Linked DNA regions of Homo sapiens. The protein of the gene in region 5 interacts with the protein of the main gene of each other region in a biochemical or structural test. Each region holds a gene or a part of one and is shown on either strand. Other genes may lie near its edges.

Evidence for each region.
Region 1: of the proteins of SRPK2 (region 5) and RBM15, one has a biochemical effect on the other in vitro, tested with the Homo sapiens proteins (2 studies listed by BioGRID and IntAct).
Region 2: of the proteins of SRPK2 (region 5) and PRRC2A, one has a biochemical effect on the other in vitro, tested with the Homo sapiens proteins (one large-scale study listed by BioGRID).
Region 3: of the proteins of SRPK2 (region 5) and OBI1, one has a biochemical effect on the other in vitro, tested with the Homo sapiens proteins (one large-scale study listed by BioGRID).
Region 4: of the proteins of SRPK2 (region 5) and AHCYL1, one has a biochemical effect on the other in vitro, tested with the Homo sapiens proteins (one large-scale study listed by BioGRID and IntAct).
Region 6: of the proteins of SRPK2 (region 5) and STON1, one has a biochemical effect on the other in vitro, tested with the Homo sapiens proteins (one large-scale study listed by BioGRID).
Region 7: of the proteins of SRPK2 (region 5) and AP1M1, one has a biochemical effect on the other in vitro, tested with the Homo sapiens proteins (one large-scale study listed by BioGRID).

What each region holds. Positions count from the first base shown.
Region 1 is NC_000001.11:110,344,777-110,347,177, reverse strand, and holds the end of RBM15 (RNA-binding protein 15), read right to left. Parts: intron 1,640-2,401; coding exon 1,569-1,639; 3' UTR 1,529-1,568; intron 871-1,528; coding exon of another isoform or gene 824-870; 3' UTR 501-823; downstream 1-500. UniProt on the Homo sapiens protein: RNA-binding protein that acts as a key regulator of N6-methyladenosine (m6A) methylation of RNAs, thereby regulating different processes, such as hematopoietic cell homeostasis, alternative splicing of mRNAs and X chromosome inactivation mediated by Xist RNA.
Region 2 is NC_000006.12:31,627,215-31,630,714, reverse strand, and holds part of PRRC2A (protein PRRC2A), read right to left. Parts: intron 2,951-3,500; coding exon 2,476-2,950; intron 1,572-2,475; coding exon 1,381-1,571; intron 1,168-1,380; coding exon 870-1,167; intron 125-869; coding exon 1-124. UniProt on the Homo sapiens protein: May play a role in the regulation of pre-mRNA splicing.
Region 3 is NC_000013.11:78,617,656-78,621,155, forward strand, and holds part of OBI1 (ORC ubiquitin ligase 1), read right to left. Parts: intron 1-3,500. UniProt on the Homo sapiens protein: E3 ubiquitin ligase essential for DNA replication origin activation during S phase.
Region 4 is NC_000001.11:109,987,765-109,991,264, forward strand, and holds part of AHCYL1 (S-adenosylhomocysteine hydrolase-like protein 1), read left to right. Parts: intron 1-3,500. UniProt on the Homo sapiens protein: Multifaceted cellular regulator which coordinates several essential cellular functions including regulation of epithelial HCO3(-) and fluid secretion, mRNA processing and DNA replication.
Region 5 is NC_000007.14:105,144,422-105,147,921, forward strand, and holds part of SRPK2 (SRSF protein kinase 2), read right to left. Parts: intron 2,238-3,500; coding exon 2,072-2,237; intron 888-2,071; coding exon 862-887; intron 1-861. UniProt on the Homo sapiens protein: Serine/arginine-rich protein-specific kinase which specifically phosphorylates its substrates at serine residues located in regions rich in arginine/serine dipeptides, known as RS domains and is involved in the phosphorylation of SR splicing factors and the regulation of splicing.
Region 6 is NC_000002.12:48,578,654-48,582,153, forward strand, and holds part of STON1 (stonin-1), read left to right. Parts: intron 1-1,933; 5' UTR 1,934-1,980; coding exon 1,981-3,500. Other genes in the region: STON1-GTF2A1L protein, read left to right, coding at 1,981-3,500. UniProt on the Homo sapiens protein: May be involved in the endocytic machinery.
Region 7 is NC_000019.10:16,204,411-16,207,910, reverse strand, and holds part of AP1M1 (AP-1 complex subunit mu-1), read right to left. Parts: intron 1,571-3,500; coding exon 1,503-1,570; intron 1-1,502. UniProt on the Homo sapiens protein: Subunit of clathrin-associated adaptor protein complex 1 that plays a role in protein sorting in the trans-Golgi network (TGN) and endosomes.

The DNA.
Region 1 (2,401 bases), on a different chromosome or scaffold from region 5:
TCATTAACATTTAAAAAGCAAACGGAGCATTTCTCCTTCTTTTGGCAATTTGGTGCAAATGTTAAGTGCAAGATAAAGCAATTTCAAACTTTTCTTCAAATTAAAAATGAAACTAAGGCCAAACGTGATGGGTGAACAAAATAAATCAAAACTTAAATTTCAGCAACTCCAGCTCTTCAAACCAGCAAAAGCCCCCGACTCAGGCACTGTGGTGAGGCTTAGGGTGCCTGCCCCGGCTTCTTGCGTGCCAGCAAACAGCACCATTTCCTCATCACGTTGAGAACCGAGAAGCAAATGATCCCCTTCACTGCAAACAAAGGGGGTCAACAGTAACACTAGTGATCCTTCAGAATTGACACACCGTGATAGTCAAAATGAAATTGATGGTCTCCCTGCTTCTTGCTCAAGACATACAAGATCTGAGCAGCAGCAAGCACCCCCTCGGCTGCAAACAAAGGGGTCAAAGGTTTGCCGTCAATTCACTTCCAGGCAGAAAAACATTTTCCTCAAAAGAAACAATTTATTTAGAATAAAACAAAAGCAGCTCAACTGTGAGCGCACGTTTGAGAGACAGCTACTCTTAAGCTGTGTGAGCCATAAAAAGGGTTTTTCTTTACTTTTCCAGAAATCTTGTGTACACAGCACAAATCAAAGAGGTCATTTTTTTTCCACTTAAAACACCGGCATTGGCATCACAATAGCAGATACACAACTTTAAGCTGCCATTTTAGTAAAATGCACAAATACTAAACAGATTAGCTTTCTTCCATCAGAGGCCCATGTAAACTCCACATAAGCCACAACTTCTCTTCAAAAAGGTCCATTAGAGCTTTGAATTCCATATCTTCATCCGCTGTTCAACCAGTTTTGCTTGCGGAGGGGGGGAAAAAAAGGTTATTCAGTACAAATGTTTACAATATTAAAAATATATATATTTCCCCTATGCCATTATAGATGAACATAACATTAACAAGACCTTCCTGGATGGTTCACCTCAACTTCAAAAAGCACCAATAATACCCACTGGCATAAACCTTGAAATGAATTTACTGTATGAATAGACATATAACAAGTAGAACAATAGGGTGGGTTTTTTTAAAGACTGCAATTGAAGATAACAGGACTGAAAATATCCTTTAACTCATGTAACTGAGTAAAACATGTTGAAAAAATTCAGAAAAAAGTTTCACAATCAATTTATAATCTATCAATATATTCTAAATATAACTTAAAAAGTGAAACTATAAAAAGGTAAAGTTTAGTCAAACTTTTGCCCCATCTATTTTCATTCTGTAATTTATATGGAGCAACATAGACTACTCCATTATTGTAGAAAGGGGTCGATACAAAGCCATTTAAAAATCCACCCTCATCTATGTTACCAAAGACAGCAGCCGTTATTTTAATAAAACACTCATACAAATAATTGTTAAACAGCCAAAGAACACTTCAGGAATCTCACTTTTCAACTCTGTTTAAACCATACATATAAAACTCTTCATTCAGCTTAACATTTCACTGTGGTTACCTGAAATCATTTCCTCCCTTTAGGGACACCACTATAACCACTATAACAGGGTCAGCGCCAAGTTTTCTCTCTTCTTGTTCTCATACCTAACTCCTATCTGAAAACCAAACCCTGTGAGAGAGACAGAAAAAAAAATGTCCAGAAATTCTCTCCAAAATTTTTTTCACATAAAAGGTCATTAAGGCCCTCTTCTCAAGAGGATTTCCTAATTCTGTTACCAGAGTTTTTGGTGATTGGTTCCTATATGGACCCAAACTATAGTTCAAGCTGTATATGCATAATGAACAATCTGCCTTAAAAAAGTGGATTTACATTTTTTATTTTTAAAAAAGCATTGTCAGTGAAAACCTGCTAATAGTTTTTAAATAAACCTAAACAATGTCTGACTCTGAAAGCAATAACCAAACACCTGACTCTTATTACTGGACCTAAAATGACCTGTAACTGAGTCAAGAAGGGCCAGAGTATATTTTACCTTCAAAAGGTGACAAATGCTTATAACCAGCCAGGCGATGGACATTTTAAGATGTAATCCTCAAAAGAAAAACTCTATCCACTCTCAGTTGAGAGTCAAAGTACACCAGAAATTTAAAACTTTGTGTGAAAAATTATTTATAGGAATCCCAACAAAATACTTAACCAAAAAGTTAAGCAGAACTATTGGCTAGGTATTGCTTGCTTAATTTTCCATAAAATTTGAAGCTGTGATCTAAAAGTCTTATCTTCACGTTTTTACCAATAATACTTAATAGTCATTAAATGATATCCTGAAGTTTTCTTTCCATTCATTTTAACTGAGTTCCAGAAAAATCAACTACATTAAAATAATTAAAGAAGAAAGATAGAAAAAAATTGGTTGTTACAAAGAACATT
Region 2 (3,500 bases), on a different chromosome or scaffold from region 5:
CCTACCCAGGCCAACTTTGGATCCACCGGTGGAGTGCCCCGTTCCCGTAACATAGCAGGTGCATGACGGTCAAATGGCTCTGAGCTTGAGCCCCCACTGTCTGAACGCTCTCGGGGAACTAGGCCTGAAGAAACCAAAGAAAAAGAAAAATAATCCTATTCATGTCACAAGCCCTCCAGCCCAAAAAGCATCTCCCCTCGCGGTCAAGTCAGCTCTTCCATCTCTTGTTCCCAGTAGGTCCGGGCCTTGCCTGCTCTTATATAACAAGGTTATCCACTCAGATTCCCTACAAGAGAATCAACCCACCCCAAATAAATCCTGGCAAATGAAGGACCACTGCTTCTTTCATTCATTCATTCATTTTTGAGATGGAGTTGTGCTATTCATTCATTCATTTTTGAGACGGAGTTTCGCTCGTTGCCTAAGCTGGAGTGCGATGGCACAATCTCGGCTCACTACAACCTCCACCTCCTGGGTTCAAGCGTTTCTCCTGCCTCAGTCTCCCGAGTAGCTGGGACTACAGGCGAGCGCCACCACGCCGGCTACTTTTTTGTATTTTTAGTAGAAATGGGGTTTTACCACGTTAGCCATGGTGGTCTCGAACTCCTGAACTCAGTTGATCTGCCCACCTCGGCCTCCCTAAGTGCTGGGATTACAGGCGTGAGCCACAATGCCTGGCCAACCACTGCTTATTTCTTAACTAAGCCCATTTTTGCAACAGAGCTATCTCAGCAGTGCCAAGCATATGCCCTTCCCTCATCACTATGATGGGCAAAACCTATCGTACCAGAGTCACAGTAAGACCCTAATATCCAATGCCTAAGACTGAGGGGACTTTCCTGTTTCTCACTCCTCCCATGCCCCCTTACCAGAGGGATGCACACCAGGAGGGTAGAAGTCTAGAGGGGGACGACCCTGGAGGAGCCGGGGGTCCACATAAGGAGGAATCATCATCCATCGGGGATCAAAGTTCATTGGGGGCATGGGTGGGGGCCGGCCCAGAGCACCTGGGTACAGGGCCTTGGGGGGCGGGGGTGGAGCCTGTGGAGCTGGCACAGCCCCCAGGGTCACAGGCTGTGGTGGTGATGGGGGCACTGGGGTAGGAGGGGCAGAGCCCTGTTGATGCTGCTGCCACTGGTGCTGCTGCTGCTGCTTCAGGAGCTGCTCCTAGGAAAGGAGGAAAGACAAGATGAGAGAGGCTCAAAGCACACATGGACAAAGGAATCAGCAAAGAAAAAACTTGGACTAGGGGAAATTGGCGTGACAATGGAGACAACTGGACAAAGAAGCAAAGGGACCCAGAAGGTAACTTATGAAGAGAATTAGGGACCGAAGCCAGGAAGAAAAGCAGCCCTTAGAGGGTAAACAACTTGATTTCACCTGCTGCTGCCGCTGGAAACGAGGAGGCAACGACTTCTGATATTTGGGGTAGCCCAAGCCCTGACTAGGGGGCTGGCGGGTGGGACCAATCCCATCACCCTTGGGTTCCACCTTTGGAACTGGGGGTGTGGTAGGAGGAGGAACCTCTTCTGGTGGTTCAGGACCCTCTTTTGAGGGCAGTTGTGGTTCCACTGCATCGGAAAAAACACAACAGAGTGATCTAGTCCAACAATAGACACTCCATGAACACCCCAGGAATCTCACGTCTCATCTCTAGCTCCCTTAAGACTAAAATATTCTATTCAACATCTATTCTATTGAAGCCCCTCCCATTTAAGACCCATTAAAGCACTTCATGGCCTCTCATGAGCCTATGGTGGTGGCATTAACTTTCTATGAAACCATTAGAACAACAGTACTTTCTTCAGTCTTGGCCTATAGGAAATAGTTTTCATTTTTATTTATGTATTTCTTGTGAGACAGGATTTTTTTTTGAGACAGAGTCTTGCTCTGTCACCCAGGCTGGAGTGCAATGGCATGGTCTTGGCTCACAGAAATCTCTGCCTCCCGGGTTAAAGCGATTCTACTACCTCAGCCTCCCAAGCAGCTGGGACTACAAGCACATGCCACCACACTTGGCTAATTTTTGTATTTTTAGTAGAGACGGGTTTCACTATGTTGGCCAGGCTGATCTTGAACTCCTGACCTCATGTTCTGCCCGCCTCGGCCTCCCAGAGTGCTGGGATTACAAGTGTGAGCCACCATGCCTGGCCGACAGGGTCTTGCTTTGTTGCCCAGGCTGGTCTCAAACTCCCTAGGCTCAAGCGATCCTCCACCCCAAGCCTCCCTAAGTGTTGGGATTATAGGCGTGAGCTACAGTACTCTGCCAAGAAATGGTATTAGACTACAACCTAAGATTCCAGACAAAACCTTCCCTCCTTCAGATATACAAATGATAGAACACTATCACTGATAGTCCAATAAACCAAAACAACTGCCTTCTACTTCATTTATCCCCAGCCTTACCACCCTGCACCTTTAAGCACCTTGAAGCAGTGATCTGACATCTGGTAGTACCTATCCCCATCTCCATACCTGGGCTGGCTTCGAAGCTGCCACTGCTGGTGCTACTGGTACTGCCACCACCACTCACCAGAGTGGGAGCCGCAGCCACACCTGGAGTAGGAGTAGATTGGGCAGGAGGGGCCTGTGCTGGCTCTTCAGGTTCTGTCTCTGGTGTTGGGGCTGATGCTGGAGGTGGAGCTGGAGGTGCAGGGAGTTCTTTAGGGACTGCAGGTGGTGGAGCTGGGGTAGAAGGGGCAGCAGGTGGGGCAGCAGGCTCTGCTTTGAGCCGCTTGTCAGGTGCCCCAAACTTTTCATCGAGTCGCTTGAGCTTCTCAGCACAGGCTGCCCGGCGCTCTTCTTGCATGCGCCGCTCCTCTTCTTCTCGCCGTCGCCGGGCCCGCTCCACTGCCAGGGAAATCTCAGATGACGACTGCTTTCGTCGCTGCCGCCATGCCTCATCCTCATCTTCAGGTGCTGGGGGCTTGCAGGGAGGACCCCCACGATCCTGTCAATTGGCAAGACCCAGCAGGGCCAGGGGAATCAGTTACTATGCTTTCTATCATCTCTTTTACAACAAATCAACTGTCGCTACTTGCAGGATGCAACGACCCAGGCTTTGGGGTTGATCTCTCTGGGTGGTGACAAACTCATTATCCTGGTCTTCTTTGAGACCACGTCTTGCTATGTTGCCCAGGCTGGTCTTGAACTTGGGCTCAAGTGATCCTTCTGCTTCAGCCTGCTGAGTAGCTTGGACTACTGATGCATACTAACAGATCCAGCTATCTAGCCACCCTAGTCTTTTTATTTTTCTGTTCCCTCTCTCCTTCCGAAACCCAAACACCCAGGGCTCCTTTTTCTTCTTTCCTCATTAGCATCCCAGTTTCTCACTTCTTACCCAGACTCCCCTATTACCAAAGATATTTAAAAGCTTCCCAGGATGTTCTGCAGCCTGGCACTTCACACAGCCCATTTTTAGCACCCCCCTTCCTCTATATCACAACCGCTTCAATTACTCAGCTGACACCAATTTCCCACAGCTGACCCTCTCAATCCCT
Region 3 (3,500 bases), on a different chromosome or scaffold from region 5:
GGCCCTTTCAATTATAGCCACCCTTGATCTGAAGCTTTTCTGTGGCTTTTCAGAGCACTGGCCTTTAATTTATGTCAGCACTACTTATTTTTGGCATTTTACAGCTGTGTGGGACATCTATCTCATTTCTTTCAACTTTGAAATATGAAGTCAGTGCTTGTGATTCCAATATACTAGGCAAAAAAAAAAATTTTTTTGTACACTTTCTGAAAGAGAACATTTTGGAGAGTGACTGAAAAAGAATTCCCTTATTCACAAAAAGTCTACTCCTTTTACACCGGGATTATCTTGCTGTTATTTCCACCAAGAATGAGTACTGTGTTAAGCTCAGGAAACAATTTTTGAGTACCTAGTATAGGTTAGGTGGTATATTTGGGGCTGGGAACACAAAAGATAAAAAAGACTGTCTAGCTCCAAGGGACATAAAATATCTACCTTAAATTCAATCTTATCACCAAAAATAAATTCTATCTTTCAGGAAACTTATGAGCCAATAAATAACATAATCCCGTGAAAAATACCTTATCTCCTCCAAAATTCTTTTCAAAGCCTATTCTTAATCATCTTTTTGATGATTTATATATTGGCCCATTTCTAAGAATTAAGGGATTGTCTGTTTGGAGGAAGCTATGAGAAGGTGACTTTCAAAAATTATTTTTATCTTTGGGTTTATCTTTTTCTTCCTTTTTTCCCCTAATTTGAAAAATAATTACAATTAAGAACATGTATTTAGTATTGAAAAAAAAAACTACAAAAAAAGCAGAAGCCAATAGCAATTGCCCCTCTTAGAATCAACCACAACATGTTTTCAACTCCCACTTAATGCCCATCACCTCCTAAACCACTAGCCCAATTCATTCCCCATCTCAACCCCTACATAATCCCTGCACTCTTATCACTGAAGGAAAAAGCAGAGGCAAAGGTAAATATAGAATCATAAAATCTCAAGATTAGAAAGGGCTTTAAAAGACATGATTGCTGAATATTGATTTACTCACTGCAATTAACTGAACCCCCAGAGAGAGCACGCTCCCTTCAACTTCTAAAAAAACACAGCAAAAACCACAGGTATAACAAAAACAAAAGCAACTATAATAACAAGCCTCCCCATTTTAAAGACAAAGTTTACTACTGTATTTGGTTAAATGAATGATGGGAATTTTTCTTCTTTGTTAAAAATGTTTTGGCTTATAAATGTAGTACTTCACAGAGTTGTAGTTCTGCAAGAGAACTTTTAAAAAGTGGGCAAAGACCTTTCAGTACATTAAGTACAAATGTTTGTTAGTTCTTGATTGTAACTACTCTGGCATAATCAAATAACCCACATTTTTAAATGGAAAAACTGTAGTATGTTTATTTAATGCCAATAAGCAAAAGTGACAGCCTTACATTTGCTTATCAAGATAAATTTCTTCAAGTAAAATTTTTTATAATAAAGGTATCTCCTCAGATAAAAAAATCAAATGACTTAAAATCAAATAATGCTACTACATAGTAAGTCAGTTGCTACCAAAGGATATCTTTGGGAACTTAGAGGCCTACACACAGAAAGACTACTCAAAAATAAAGAATGCTTCCCAAAATATTACCAGCTTCTTGTTCCAGGGTTTTAGCTTGGAATTTCAAATATAGTATCATCTTAAGATACTGTATTTGCCTCTCTCTCTCTATATATTTTTTTTTTTTAGAAATTATGTTTTTAAAAGAAGTAACATATGGTTTGGAGTTGAAGTCAATGAGAGCCCTAAACATAATTTTTGTGTTATTTCAGAGAGAAGTAACAAAGGCCAGTAGCAGATCACATATGAGAGGCACAAGCAAGCAGAAGTCACTGATGGAGTTAGGCTGTTTTCTAAAAGGCCACTGCCCCCAATTTCCTTAAGTTTCCTTTCAATACTCTATAAATCTATAATACTTTCAGTGATCAGGCCCTTCTCCCATGCTAATAAGGGACCTGTGCTGGTTGGCAGACTGACAGAAATGTATACTAAAAGCCATGCAACTGATCAATTAATCAATTCATGTAATTTATTTGCTTTCTTTCTCCCACGTTAGAATAGAAGCTCAAGGAGAGCAGGTAGTTTGTCTTATATTCACTGCCAGATTCCTAGAACAATTCCTGGTATACGGCACTTGCCTGTTGTGTATTTCTTGAATAAAAGTCATTCTCTTACTTTAAGATACACTAGTGCCTTACATTGAGACAGGGTTGACACCACAGGATAAGCTAAAGGTCCTTGGCCTTCTTTTTACATGTTAAGTATTATGACAGTCACTGTATTACTAAAGTAAACATGTTTTGTTTACTACATTTGACTGTTTACTTTATTTCACTGACACCCAGGAAAGCAACAGAGACTGACATATGTACAGTACAGCCTTTTTTGCTACAGGCTTGACATTCTATACTGCTCCACCCCAAAAAACTTCACCTTAGTAAGACTGCAAATAGATGAGACTTTTGACATGTGTCAGGAAATTTTCAGCTTATCCAAGATAACTATATTAAATTTGGCAAAGGGCAATTTACCTTATTATAGAGAAATAACAATTAGGGATAAGTATCTGATGCTATACTTCCATAGAAGAAGGACATGAGCTTATTTATCTTTGGGTTTTAATACTTTTGTATTCACACTAATTCTAGATATTTGGAGTATACAACACTAAATGAAGCTATGCCAAGGCAAGCCGGAGGGATTTCTAATATCATTTACCATACTTCCTCCTTTTCTTGAGTAAATTTCAAAATGGAGTATTTTTATAAACATTCCATTAGAGACCAAAAGGCTTTGATTTTCAAAGTAGCAGTGATGGCCAAAGGCTTCATTGTGCCAGAAAAAACACTGCAGAGCAGTTTGGGAGCTACAATTGATATCGGAACTGTATTCTGCCAGAATCTAACAGAAGCTTAAAGGATTTTTCAGCTTGCAATATTAACTGATACATACATTCTGGATGAGAGAGAAAAGGATGCCAGTTCCCCTTGTCCAAATAGCTCTAAGAGATACAAGATCATTTCTGTCCCTAGTAAAAGAGAAATGGAAGTCCTATTGGTATGACCTTTGAGGTGGTATAACTAAACTAAAGAGCATCTCTAACAACAAAAAGTTCCTAAGACCATATTTTCTCATAGTCTATCACACAGAAAAACAGGACGTGTTTGAAGAAAACAAATGTGGTAAAAGAATACCACACCTGAGTACCAAAAAACTAATAAGCTCTAGTGCTACGCTACTATCCTTGAGCAATTCACTTTGCCTTTCTGGTTCTCAATGGCAATTCCAACAAAATGGGTAAATGCAGCAAGCCCAGTGGGTGGCCAAGACTGCCAAAATTCAGAAATGCCTTCTTGAGGAGGAACAAGGGGGACATTGGGGAAGTCAGTCCACTTGCCTCATCAAACTTTGACTTTATATGTTTCCCTCACTTGGTAGCTGAGGTAATGAAACAAAGCGAAAGCTATCTTTGGACCTGGACCAGCTTTTGTGGTGTGGCCT
Region 4 (3,500 bases), on a different chromosome or scaffold from region 5:
GACTTGTTGGTTTGATTGAAGATTTGAGATGTCTGGGTGTCGAGAAGTCAACTAAAGGGATATGACCTTGAGCAAATTAATTAGCTTTTGTACCTGCATCTCCTCATCTGCCAAATAAGTGCCTATTTTTTTTGGAACAGGTGGAGATAGGGGCATGTTGGGGAGTTAAGATAGCAGTGTAATTTTTTAAAAGTCTATTCGTATATTTATATTCTTTCTTCAATGGGCATTTGAAGTGGCTTATAACACAGAACATATATGTGATATAAAAGGAAGTAAAAACTATAGAAAGAATGAAAAAAATATTGTTAACCTCGAGGGCTAAGATAGTTGATGAGGTTGATCACATGCAACTTGAAACTTTTAGCAGCCAGAGGATGAAAAGAATCATAGTTACAGTCTCCTTAGCAGGCATGGGAAATAATACATGTCAATTCCTCAAGGGGACGACTTTTCCTGACACAGAGTTCTAAAATAATTTTTCACGGGAATGTCTTAATAGCTGTAGTGTAATTCACATTGTAAGGCTTGTTCACGACTGTCACTGGTGATTTCAGATGGTATGGCTAGGAAAATTTGAGGTAAGAAAAGGAATCCTTGAGTTTTAAGAGTTAAGTGTACCACAACTGAAGAAGATCCTTGTTTAATGTTGGCAGTTATCGGTCAAACCAAGTAAGTAATCTAGTTCCCCATAACCACTGGTTATTTATCCCTCTTTTGCTGCTACTTTGTGTAACAGGAGTGGTAACTGTCCTTGGACCTTTGGAAATTGACACTGTGTCAAGTTGATTCTTTTTTCATAGTGTAAACCCAAATCTCCAACTTGTTGGAGAGCTCTTACAATAAGCATGTTTCTCCGGAAGGCCTTTCAGAACATTTGCTGTTCTCTGAACTTCTGAACATTAAAGGCACTCTCCAGAGTGATCCATTAAACATTTTGACCTAGGATCTGTGGAGTCAGACCCATCAGCAAAATGTGGGGAAGGAGAAGAGCACAGAAGAAACTACTTTTGTTTATAGGATATTCTTTATTTGAATGAAGCTATGTGCCACTAATTCATCAAAAGGGTCAGCTGAGACTTAGGAAGCACACCAAGTAGAGCCCCAATGGGTACAGCTTGGGTGTTAACCCGATAGGTAAAATCCAGGTTTCTCCTTTTGTCATCAGAGTTATCTTACGGTTAATTTTTGGTGCAGTTGTATAGAATTTACGCCAGGACTTGTCAGAATCACTGAAAGGAGATTTCATAGGTTGGCATTTCCTATCTTCACATCATTAGTATCTCTTGATTCTCCTTAGAGTGGCTGCTGTTGTAGTAGCAGTCTTTAAAACAGGAGTTGGGGTGTAAGAAGATCCTCTTTTTAAGATTTCTCCGCAGGTATTGATTACATCTCTTTTTCTTGTTTGGTTTAGTTAGTTACACTCTAGTTTCCAAATTACTTTGTTCCAAGTTTCTTTAGACATTTAGCTTGTAACAGAAATCTGTTAGAAGATTTCTAGATCAGTAGTTGTCTAGATCTTTTGCTGCCAAGGTTACAAATGTATACCTTTTCTTTTATCAGGAGTGTGTCATTTGGATCCAGAGTGTTTTACCCAATATAATATTCTTTTTTAAAATTTATTTTTATTTTTTATAGAGATGGGGAAATCCCTGTGTTGCCCAGGCTTGTCTTGAACTCCTGGGCTCAAGCGATCTTCCCACCTCAGCCTCCCGAAGTGCTGGGATTACAGGCAAGAGCCACCACGCCCACCCCAATATAGTATTCTTGGAAAGTTGTCTATAAAGGATATTTTGATACATGGAATCATGCAGGTCTTTAGTTGCCTGTGACTCCTAGCAAGTGTACTCTGCCACTCCGAGTAGTTAATGATCTGTAAATAAGCACTTTAATGCCCTCTTGGGGTTGTTTTAAAGGAACTGGCGAATAAAGGAGAATCATTTATACGTACCTGTTTCTCAAGTTTGGGAATGTGAGTATTGCATTTTTATAAAGAATGTCAACCCTGATTATACTGGATACATTTTATTATAATTTAGAACTGAATAGTAATTCAGAACACATGCTAATGAGGTGCGTCAGAAGCATTCCTGTCATGTGAAGGGCAACCTACGTGCATAGACCAGAATTTTTTCTAGCCTGAAATCTGAGAATCCCCAGTTGAAGACAAATTCTTACCACAAATTTTCCTTTTGATTATTGTCAATACTATCAGTGCCTATTGTGTAGTAAGCAGTTAATAAAAATTCACACAGAATTGCAGTTGCCTTTCCTTTTCTGATTCCATATTTTCCTTTGACTCACTCAAGTAGTTCTTTTGTCCCACTGTTGCTTGGCTGTTACATAAGACGCCTTTAACTTCCCGTTTCTGTTCCTAAAACTGTGAGTAGTAGTACAACATAAGGTAAGCACTGATTTTTGGAGTCAGTTTTACCTTTAGTCTCTACCATCTAATAGTTGTGGGACATTCAACAAGTGACGTCCTTTTCTCATCTGTAAAATGGGGAACAATGATAGTGCTATCTATATACATGGTTGAGAGGGTTAGCATTTAGTAAATAGTAATTAGTGGGGTTTTTTTGTACCTAGAGTGACCATATATCCTGGTTTGCCTGGCGCAATTCTGGTTTATACCTGTTATCCTAGCATGCAGTCCAAGGAGTGCCTCCGTAGCTCTGAAAGTTACCCTGGTTTATGTGGCCACCCTATTTATAACTCTCTGGATGATGCAACATGATAGTGCAAATGAGAGCCTAATTTTGAAATGTTAAAGAGCCAAAACAAAGAAGTTTCTATTGGAATGTCTTTTCAATAAGAAAATTTTTTTCTGACAAAAATGTTATTTTATATAGAGCTTACAGCTACTGAACCCCAAAACATTTTGTTAACTACAGGGGTGGGGTGTGTAGACAGAGATCTTAGAGCTTTTGATGGAGTTGAGATGTCCTCTACCTTACCATTCCCCATTCATCCCCCGTAATACATAATGCACTCATAGAATGTGGGTATTTGTCAGACACTGGGCCAGTCTCAGTCCAGGAGTTTATTTCCTTAAACTTCAGGTGTTTGGGGTTTTCCCAAACTAGAATCCTTGAATTACATGAAATAATTGCAAAGACTTCTGAACTGTGACTTTATCATTTTAGGTATGTACTCCAGCACCCCCGCCCCCATCCCTGCAGGTACTGTTTTCTCATTGCTCTTAACAGCCTGCTTCTAATTATGTATAACTGATTTTCTCCTGTAGAAATGTGTGGCCTTTGCTGCATGCCACTCATAGAACTAGAGTGGAGCATCCATGCCTTTGTTGAGAGACTCAGACTGCTTTCATTTTTGTTTCTATCTCTGTTTAATTTTTCTAAAGGATTTAGCCTGGTGCCTTAATCTCAGAATGTAGATAATGATGGATACTGCTTATCAGTATACATTGGGGGGCTTAATCATTCACTACCCAAATGGAACACAAAGTAAAAAGTTTAATGAACTATTGGTAAAAGGTA
Region 5 (3,500 bases):
GTAGAGACAGGATTTCACCATGTTGGCCAGGCTGGTCTTGAATTCCTGACTTCAAGTGATCTAGTGGCCTCAGCCTCCCAAAGTGCAGGGATTACAGGCGTGAGTCACCACACCCAGTATCTAATAAGGACATAGTGTTTTGACAGGACCACAAAATAGATCAGTCTCTTTCTTATTTAACATCCGCATGGAAAAAATTAGAACAACAGCTTCAGAAAAACAGGTAACTTAGCAGCCAATCAGAAATAATGTAAAGTGGTTTTGAAATAAAAATACTTCAACTCCATCACCTCACATTTCACTAAACTTGGCCACCATAGTCCAGAAAATGCATAAAGAAGACAATTTTTGAAAGGCTCTAACTATCCCAACTCTGCACAGATCATTAAAACTTAACAAGACAGGCTGGGCGTGGTGGTTCAAACCTGTAATCCCAGAAATTTGGGAGGCCGAGGCAGGCAGATAACTTGAGGTTAAGAGTTCGAGACCAGTCTGGCCAACATGGTGAAACCCCTCTCTACTAAAAATACAAAAATTAGTTGGGTGCGGTGGCAGGTGCCTGTAATCCCAGCTACTCGGGAGGCTGAGGCACAAGAATCGTTTGAACCAGGGAGGGGGAGGTTGCAGTGAGCCGAGATCGCACCACTTGCACTCCAGCCTGAGCAACAGAGTGAAACTCAGTTTTCAAAAAAAAAAAAAAAAAAAATTAACAAGACATTAAGTCTTACCTATTTGAGGATACACAGCTTTTATAAATGTGTCTACCCTTTAAATACACAACTTTTTTATAATTTGAACAACTCAATAATAAACGGTCTCTTTTAACATGGTGCATATAAAGTAATATGCGTAAGTACTTACAGGTTTCTGCTGTGGAGCCGTACTCACTAAAATAAAATCAAACAAAATCTGTATTTAGCAGAAAACAGACACATGCCTTCATGTAGGTCATTCGAATTGCAAAGTGAAATAATTATTGTCTTTTAATGGCTATCCAACTTCAAAAACTATTAATCAGAGCTTCTTAATCACAAGGATCTAGAGTAAGTTTATGCCACTGAAACAAATGAGTGACTCCTGAAGTCACAGCAGAAGTTACTCATACTGAGCCATTTCTCTTATTTATCTAAAATGAAATACTAATACATCTCAAACACAGTCAAGCTCAAGCACCAACAGATCACTTAAGAAAATGGAAAAGAATACATATCACAGTCATTAAACCAAATTTGTTTAAAATATAATGAAATGAACAATGTAGATGTACATCGATATTTGGAATCTATTTTGCAAGCTTTCTATAATTTAAATCAAATACTGCAGTTGGTATGCAGCAAATAGTCTAGGAATCACATGATTAAACCCCTACACCAGGGTCAAAAGCTTAACAGGCTGGGTCCATGATCTAAACAACACCCTGATGGCAGTAAAGGAGATGTGAAGAGAGCCCCAGGCAGTCCCAGGAGCCTCAGCCCTTTAGTATCCATGCTTGCCTGACAACACACAAAGGCACAGATCATGGTGTCGAAGAGTGAGAAGCACAGTCCACACTTCACTGCACCACCTCCCCGACCCCGCCCCAGAAATAAAGATATCCCAATACTCAGGTCACTTGATCTTCTTCCCCCACCATCAGGCCTTTTCTAACTAACTCCAAATCTGTTGATACAACTCAGGTTGACATAGCTATGCTAAATGGACAACAAGAATTTATGTACACAAAATTGAAGCCAGAAAAATATTCTGATGACTAAAGGTCAGCTACAGGAAAGCTGTTACTATGTTCTCCTCTGCAGAGAAGCTGGCAACAGAAAAAACTGTTCAAATATAGATGAAGCAGCAACTACAAATTTAAATGGCCTTTTAAAGGGGGACAAAAGTAAATACTTCCAATATTAAAATATAATGTAGCTGGGGCATTTTCCATTTCAAGGGTGCAGTTATTTCCAGCAATTAAACTTTTCCAAAATCTTCCTTATGTGTAACGTTTGATTCAGATACCTTCAACAACTGCAACTTTGCAAGCTCCCAATGCCCCCACACTGAAATGAAGCTGGCTCAGCTCCCTCACCTGCAGACCCTGAAGGAGGAGGAGCACCTGCTTTCTGCCACTCAGTGGCCTCAGCTGCCATTCTTCTCACATATGCATCATCCACACACATCAAGATATTTTCCGGCTTTATGTCAGTATGAATGATCTTGCACTTACTGTGTAAGTAATCTAACCCTTGAAGGACCTGGATATAGTAAAATCAAGAGAGAAGATAAGCTATTAATATCTCATTATATAACTTTTATTTATTTGAAAAACATGTAATACAATGCCAGGGTACAAAGTTTGATAAACACAAAAGGATATTTAGTAAAAATCTCCCTCCCATGCCTACCCACATTGGAATCCAGCTCTCCTTTCCATAAGCAACCAGTGTGTATAATTTCAGAGATTATTTATGCTCGTGGAAGCAAATGCATCTACATACAGTTGAACCTTGAACAACACAGGTTTGAACTGCATGGGTTCCCTTATACACAGATTGTCTTCCACCTCTGCCACTCCTGAGACAGCAAGACCAACCCCTCAGCCTACTCAACGCGAAGATAATGAGGATGAAGACCTTTATGATCATCTACTTCATATGATCTATCCACTTAATGAATAGTAAGTATATTTTCTCTTCTTTATGATTGTCTTAACATTCTTTTCTCTAGCTTACTTTGTTGTAAAAATATGCTATATAACACACATACAAAATACATGTTAATTGGTCATGTGATCATTAAGGATTCTGATCAACAGTAGGCTAGTAATTCATGTATCATACAATTGACCCCTTTAGGTATACAATTCAATGGATTTTAGATGTGCGACTATCATTACTATTTATTTTTTAAATTTTTTATGTATTTATTTTTTGAGACAGAGTCTCGCTCTGTCACCCAGGCTGGAGTGCAGTGGCACAATCTTGGCTCACTGCAACCTCCGCCTCCCAGGTTCAAGCAATTCTCCTGCCTCAGCCTCCCAAGCAGCTGGGATTACAGGCGTATGCCACCACGCCTGGCTAATTTTTTTTGTATTTTTAGTAGAGACGGGGTTTTACCATATTGGCCAGTGGTCTCGAACTCCTGACCTTGTGATCCACCTGTCTCGACCTCCCAAAGTACTGGGATTACAGGCGTGAGCCACCACACACGGCAACTACCACCACTATTTAAATGACAACATTTTCATTGCTCCAAAAAGAAACAACATATTCATCAGCATTCACTTCCCATCTCTCTCCTACCCCTTCTAACCCTTAGCAACCACTAATCTACTTGCTGATTCTGGACATTTCCTATAAATGGAATCATATAAAGTATTTTTTTGTAACTGGCATAATGTTTTCAAGTTTGACTCTTGTGCAGCATGTATTAGTACTTCGCTTATTCTTATTGGCAAACAGTATTCCACTGTATGGAGATACAACATTGTGTTTATCCCTTCACCTCATGAACATTTG
Region 6 (3,500 bases), on a different chromosome or scaffold from region 5:
TCTCAGCTCACTGCAACCTCCTCCTCTCAGGTTCAAGCAATTCTCCTGCCCACCACCATGCCTGGCTAATTTTTGGGCAGGTACCCACCACCATGCTTGGTTAACTTTTGTATTTTTAGTAGAGACTGGGTTTTGCCATGTTGGCCAGGCTGGTCTCTAACTCCTGACCTCAAGTGATCTACCCACCTTGGCCTCCCAAAGTGCTGGGATTATAGGCGTGAGCCACTGTGCCTGGCCTTAATTCTTCCTCCAGTGTGGCTGAGGGAAGCCAAAAGATTAGACATCTCTGGTATAAGATTACAGTTTAGTTTCACTCTTTTGCATGTGGATATCAAGTTTTTTCAACACCACTTTTTTTTTTTTGTTTGAGACAAAGTTTCGTTCTCCTTGCCCAGGCTGGAGAGTAATGACACAGTCTCTGTTCACTGCAACCTCTGCCTCCCGGGCTCAAGCGATTTTCCTGCCTCAGCCTCCTGAGTAGCTGGGATTACAAGTGTGTGCCACCATGCCCAGCTAATTTTTTGTATTTTTAGTAGAGATGGGGTTTCTCCATGTTGGCCAGGCTGGTCTCGAACTCCTGACCTCAGGTGATCTGCTCTCCTCAGCCTCCCAAAGTGCTGGGATTATAGATGTGAGCCACTGCACCCAGCCCTCTTTCTTCCTTTTTTTTTTTGAGACGGAGTCTCACTGTGTTGCCCAGGCTGGAGTGCAGTGGCGCATTTGTGGCTATAAAGTTCCCTGTGAGTACTGTTTTGGTGTGCTGTGTTTTCATTTTCATTTGTCTCAAGATATTTTCTAATTTCCTTTTTTATTTCTCCTTTGATCCATTGGTTGTTCAAGAGTATGTTAATTTTCAAATATTTGTGAATTTTTTAGTTTTCCTTCTATTATTAATTTCTAGTTTTATTCCATTGTGGTTAGAAAAAATGTTTGTGTGATTTCAATCTTCTCACATTTGTTAAGATTTGTTTTGTAACCTAACGTGATCTGCTTTGGCAAATGTTCTGTGTGTGCTTGAGAAGAATATGTGTTCTGCTGCTGTTAGGTGGAATGTTCTGTATATGTATGGCAGTTTAGTTGAGTTTATAGTGTTCAAGTCTATTGTTTCTTTAGTGGTCTTCTGTCTGGATGTTCTGTGTATTGTTGAAAGTATGGTGTTGAAATCTCCAATTATTAGTGGGTGGCTATCTATTTCTCTCTTCAGTTCTGTTAATGTTTGCTTCATATATTTGGGTGCTCTGATGTTGGATATATAAATATATATATATTTTCAGATGGAGTTTCACTCTGTCACCCAGGCTGGAGTGCAATGGCACTATCTCAGCTCACTGCAACCTCTGCCTCCCAGGTTCAAGAGATTCTCCTGACTCAGCTACCTGAGTAGCTGGGATTACAGGTGCCCACCACCATGCTTGGCTAATTTTTGTATTTTTTTGTAGAGACAGGGTTTTGCTATGTTGGCCAGACTGCTCTCGAACTGCTGACCTCAGGTGACCTGCTTGCCTCGGCCTCCCAAAGTGCTGGGATTACAGTTGTGACCCACCATTCCCAGCTGGGTTAATATATATTTATAATTGTTGCGTCTTCCTAGTGAATTGACTCTTTTATCATTATATTATGTCCTTCTTTGTCTCCTATGATAGTTTTTGACTTAAAGTTTATTTTGCTTAAGCATGGCTACTCCTGCTCTCTCTTGGATAACATTTGCATGGAATATGTTTTTTCATCCTTTCACTTTCAGCATATGTCTGTCTTTAAATCTAAAGTGAGTACCTTATAGACAGCATACAGTTGGATCATGTTTTTTTTTTAATCCACTTAGCCACCAACAGAATTATAATTTTTAAGCATTTATCAGAAGTAAAGACATTTAGTAATGATTCCCCCCTTCATTTTATATACCTATTTTCTCTTTATTTTATTTTTTTAACAGAGTCAACCTATTTGATTTCTTGACAAGACCACAATCTGATCCCAAAGATGTGCTCCACAAATCCAGGCAAATGGGTCACCTTTGATGATGATCCTGCTGTTCAATCTTCTCAAAAGTCAAAGAATTTTCCTCTGGAGAATCAAGGTGTCTGTAGACCAAATGGACTGAAGCTGAACCTTCCTGGCCTCAGGGAATTTCCCAGTGGATCTTCCTCCACCAGCAGCACTCCTCTCTCCTCCCCCATTGTAGATTTTTATTTCAGTCCAGGACCTCCAAGTAACTCTCCTCTTTCTACACCTACCAAAGACTTCCCAGGTTTTCCTGGCATCCCCAAAGCAGGGACTCATGTGCTTTATCCTATTCCAGAATCATCTTCAGACAGCCCACTCGCAATATCAGGAGGAGAATCTTCCTTACTGCCTACCAGACCAACATGTTTATCCCATGCCTTGTTACCCAGTGACCACTCATGTACACATCCAACTCCCAAAGTAGGTCTTCCAGATGAAGTTAATCCTCAACAGGCTGAAAGCCTAGGATTCCAAAGTGATGATCTCCCCCAGTTTCAGTATTTTCGAGAGGACTGTGCTTTTTCAAGTCCATTTTGGAAAGATGAAGGCAGTGATTCCCATTTCACCCTTGACCCACCAGGAAGCAAAAAGATGTTCTCATCAAGAAACAAGGAGATGCCTATTGACCAAAAAAGCCTAAATAAGTGTTCACTCAACTATATCTGTGAGAAGCTTGAACATCTCCAGTCAGCTGAGAACCAAGACTCACTTAGAAGTTTGTCTATGCACTGTCTATGTGCTGAAGAAAATGCCTCTTCCTTTGTCCCCCACACACTCTTCAGGAGTCAGCCAAAATCCGGATGGTCTTTCATGCTGAGAATTCCTGAGAAGAAGAATATGATGTCTTCCCGGCAATGGGGACCAATTTTTCTGAAAGTTTTGCCTGGAGGAATTTTGCAGATGTATTATGAACAGGGATTAGAAAAACCATTTAAAGAGATACAGCTTGATCCATATTGTAGGCTTTCTGAACCCAAGGTTGAGAACTTCAGTGTAGCAGGAAAAATCCACACTGTGAAGATTGAACATGTGTCTTACACAGAAAAAAGGAAATACCATTCTAAGACAGAAGTAGTTCATGAACCTGACATAGAGCAGATGCTGAAGTTGGGGTCCACATCGTACCATGACTTCCTTGACTTTCTGACTACTGTGGAGGAGGAGCTGATGAAGTTGCCAGCTGTTTCAAAACCAAAAAAGAACTACGAGGAGCAAGAAATTTCCTTGGAAATTGTGGACAACTTTTGGGGTAAAGTCACAAAAGAAGGAAAATTTGTTGAAAGTGCTGTGATAACTCAAATTTATTGCCTCTGCTTTGTGAATGGGAACCTGGAATGCTTTTTAACCTTGAATGACCTTGAGTTGCCGAAGCGAGATGAATCCTATTATGAGAAGGACTCAGAAAAAAAGGGGATTGATATTCTTGACTACCATTTTCATAAGTGTGTGAATGTACAAGAATTTGAGCAATCAAGAATCATTAAGTTTGTACCTCT
Region 7 (3,500 bases), on a different chromosome or scaffold from region 5:
CAGCCTACTTCCCAGGCTCGGTGGTGTGCTACAGGGCCCTGGACCCAGGTTATGGGGCAGGACAGCAGTGGCTGGCTGTGGGGTGGGGCCAGGCTGGAGCCACTGCAGATGTCCCGAGGCCTTCAGAAGCTCTGCGTTCCCATTCTCTTCCCTGCCCAGACACCCGCAGACAGGCAGCCCCTCCTGAGCGACTGTAACTGTCATCCCTTTCTGAGTCTGGAGTGACTCAGGCAAGGACCTGATGAGCTGCCATCTTCCCCATTTCAGTGGAAAGCTTGATGCATCTTCCCCATTTCAATGGAAAGCTCAGAAGGTTAAGGAAGGGACGCCAAAGAAGAGGGGCTGTTAGAAGCACTTTTGCAGGCACAAATGCTGAAGGAAGGAGCGTCACTAAAACAGAAAGGCACAGCCCAACCCTTGGGTGAGGACCTTCCCCTTCCCGCATCCCCCATTCTCTGATCTGCTGACCCCTGCGCGCTTCAGGACTGTGATCACCCGGCCTCTGCTTGGAAACCACAGGCAGCACAGCCAGGCCCAGCCCTGCCTGTGACAGCATCACCGGTCCAGTGAAGGCAGCCCTTGGCCTGCACGTGGGGCCTTCCCAGGTGACCCTCGGCTCCTTCCCCAAGCCCTCACCGCCCAGGCTTGCCCCTGTTCCCCAACATTCTGCACAGGCAGCATCAGTGAGGGATGAAAGCTTTCCCAGGCCCAGCACAGGCCTCCTGGGTCCTGTTCCCCACTTTCGTGAGCCCCACAGCCCACCTCGGCCAGGCCCATCCTCTCCGGGAAGCCAGCAGCAGCCTCCTCACTGGCCTCAAGTCCTCCTTCTGCTCAGCAGCCAGAGAGGCTGCTTTAGATCAAACCACGTCTTGTCAGTCTCCTGCTTAAAGCCCTCCACTACCTTTCATCAGAAGTGGAATGAAATCCACACTCCTGTATAATCCGCCCTCTTCCCAGCTGACCTCAGCCTCATACTCTGCCACACGCACGCTGGCCTCCCTAGCTGCACCACACATACACCTGTCCTGGCGCCTTCACCCTGGCTGCTATCTGTGTCTCACTGGCAGCCTGGGCCTGGCGTGTCAGCTCTCTCCAAGGTGGGCGTCAGGCATCTGTGCCTTGAGAGCCCCCTGGGAGATTCTGAGGTGGGCTCAGCTCTGCAGCTCTGCTGGTTATTCCAGCCCCATCCAGCTGGTCACCCCACATCCTTCCAAAGCTCGCTGACCCCTGCTTGTCCCTTCCAGGGTCAGGGCACCCCTGCTCTGAGCCCTACCTTTTCCTGTTCACTTTCCTTTCTTCCCCACGGTAGGGGAGCAACGTGAGCTATAGAATTCCACAGGCGTGGGGAGTTGGGACTCCCCTTTCCCACTTCCTGGGCTTCCAGCCCCAGTGCTCCCTGGGGATGCCACAGCTCTCTGTAGGGTGGCCAGGTATGGGGAGGTCCACAAGCAGAGCCAAGACAACCTCCACCCAAGCCCACGGCCCCTCCGAGCGAGACTCACCTGCACCACCTTATAGAGGAAAGAAAAGACCAGCGACACGCACGCGTTCTTCTTGGATGTGGCAACCACTGCATGGCGGCCACAGTTAAGGAGCATTCAGAGGCTGGGGCTGCTGCCTGGAAGATCCTGGTTCATGGAGGGACCCCCTAACCCTCACAACCCTCAGAGCCTTCCCTATCCCCACTCCCAGCCGTTTACTTGGCCCATGGTGGGCTACAAAGCTCCTGGTCCAAGCTAGACCTGGGACACAGGAGTCACCAGCCAGATGCGCTCCCAGGCCCCAGGGAGCACTCACTGAGATGGAGAATCACAGGGATGGCAGGTGGCACAGGGCACCTGTCCCGGCGGCTGGGTGAAGGGCTGCCTTGAGCAGGGAGGGAGTGAGGCTCATTCCAGGAGCAGAAAGCAGGACACACTGGCCCTGCTCCTCCAAAGCTGACCTCATCATGACCCTGCTGAGGTCCAGGGTCCCCCGGCCAGACTCTGTGGCAAGCAGCCAGGGCCAATTCTGGCTTCAGCCCTTCCTGGCTTTGGAAACACAAGCCTTGGCCCATGAAATAAACCTTTCTAGAGAAACCTTGATATTTCTCTCCTGTGTAATGGAGGCCTGTGAATGAACTCACCAAGGCAATGTAGGTGAGATGTCTGGCACAGATGTTCCCTTCTGCCACAGGAGCCAGCCCCTGCCTCCCAGGGTCAGTGTGTGCTGGGCGCTTCCTATTCCTTTTTCCCTAATGGGTCCCCGGGCCGCCAGAGAAGGCTGGTTCTTCCTCTGTAGGCCCATGCACTGCACCCTGGACATCCCTGTTCATGGCACATCTGTGCTGCCTGGCTCGTCTGCCCAGGAGTGAGCTCTAGGAGGGAGGGTGGGGGCTGTATCCTCTCCCTTCCCGCCTCACCCCAGCACAGCACAGGGGCCCAGGAAAGGGACGCTGGCCCAGTCAAACGAGTGCTGGCCTCCCTCCTGCTGCCTGGCAATGTGCCCTCCCCAGATGCTTTATAAGCAGGGGCAGTGGGGGCCTCTCACCTTCTCATGGGTGCCTCTCAGCCACGGCCTTGCTGAGCACTGTCCCGGCTGGGGGTGAAACGATGTCCACTAAGCCAGAGGGGTGAGCCCTCCCTGTCTCTTCCCTAGATGCCCAGGTGTGAAATGTGGGGGCCCAACCAGAAACTGATCTGATGGCTCCTGCTGAGCTCAGACCACAGCCACCTCTCCCTCTCCCAATACCTGGGCGGCTTCAGAGGACTGTCAGTTCCCTGGGTTAAAAGCCACCTAGGCCGGGCACGGTGGCTCACGACTGTAATCCCAGCATTTTGGGAGGCTGAGGCGGGCGGATCACGAGGTCAGGAGATCGAGACCATCCTGGCTAACATGGTGAAACCCTGTCTCTACTAAAAAAATACAAAAAAATTAGCTGGGCGTGGTGGCGGGCGCCTGTAGTCCCAGCTACTCGGGAGGCTGAGGCAGGAGAATAGCGCGAACCCGGGAGGCGGAGCTTGCAGTGAGCCCAGATGGCGCCACTGCACTCCAGCCTGGGCGACAGAGCGAGACTCTGTCTCAAAAAAAAAAAAAAAGCCACCTAAGATCATCTTCAGAGCTATTCTCAGGGCCTTCCAGAGCCAGGTGAAATCTACACAGAGGCACACCACAGGGAGCCCTGGGCCAGCACGGCCCACATGGGAATGTGCACACCGGCCACCAGGAACAAATCTTCCTACAATGCAGATTCTGACGGGGCAGGGCTGGGTGGAGCCTGGGATTCTGCATTTCCAAAGGGCTCCCAGCGGATATTCTGGCCCGTTGGCCACACTGTACTGGCAAGGCCCCAAGTGTCTCCAAGAACACAGGAAAGGGCACAGAGCCCATGCCTGCTGGGAGCAATATGCACAAGTCAGTTCAACTGACCCGAATGGTCCTGCAGTGAGGGGTCGTTGTTCCCACTGAACTGTGGGAAGGTGAGGGATCCCCCATGGCTGCTGGAGCTGGGGCTCAAACGG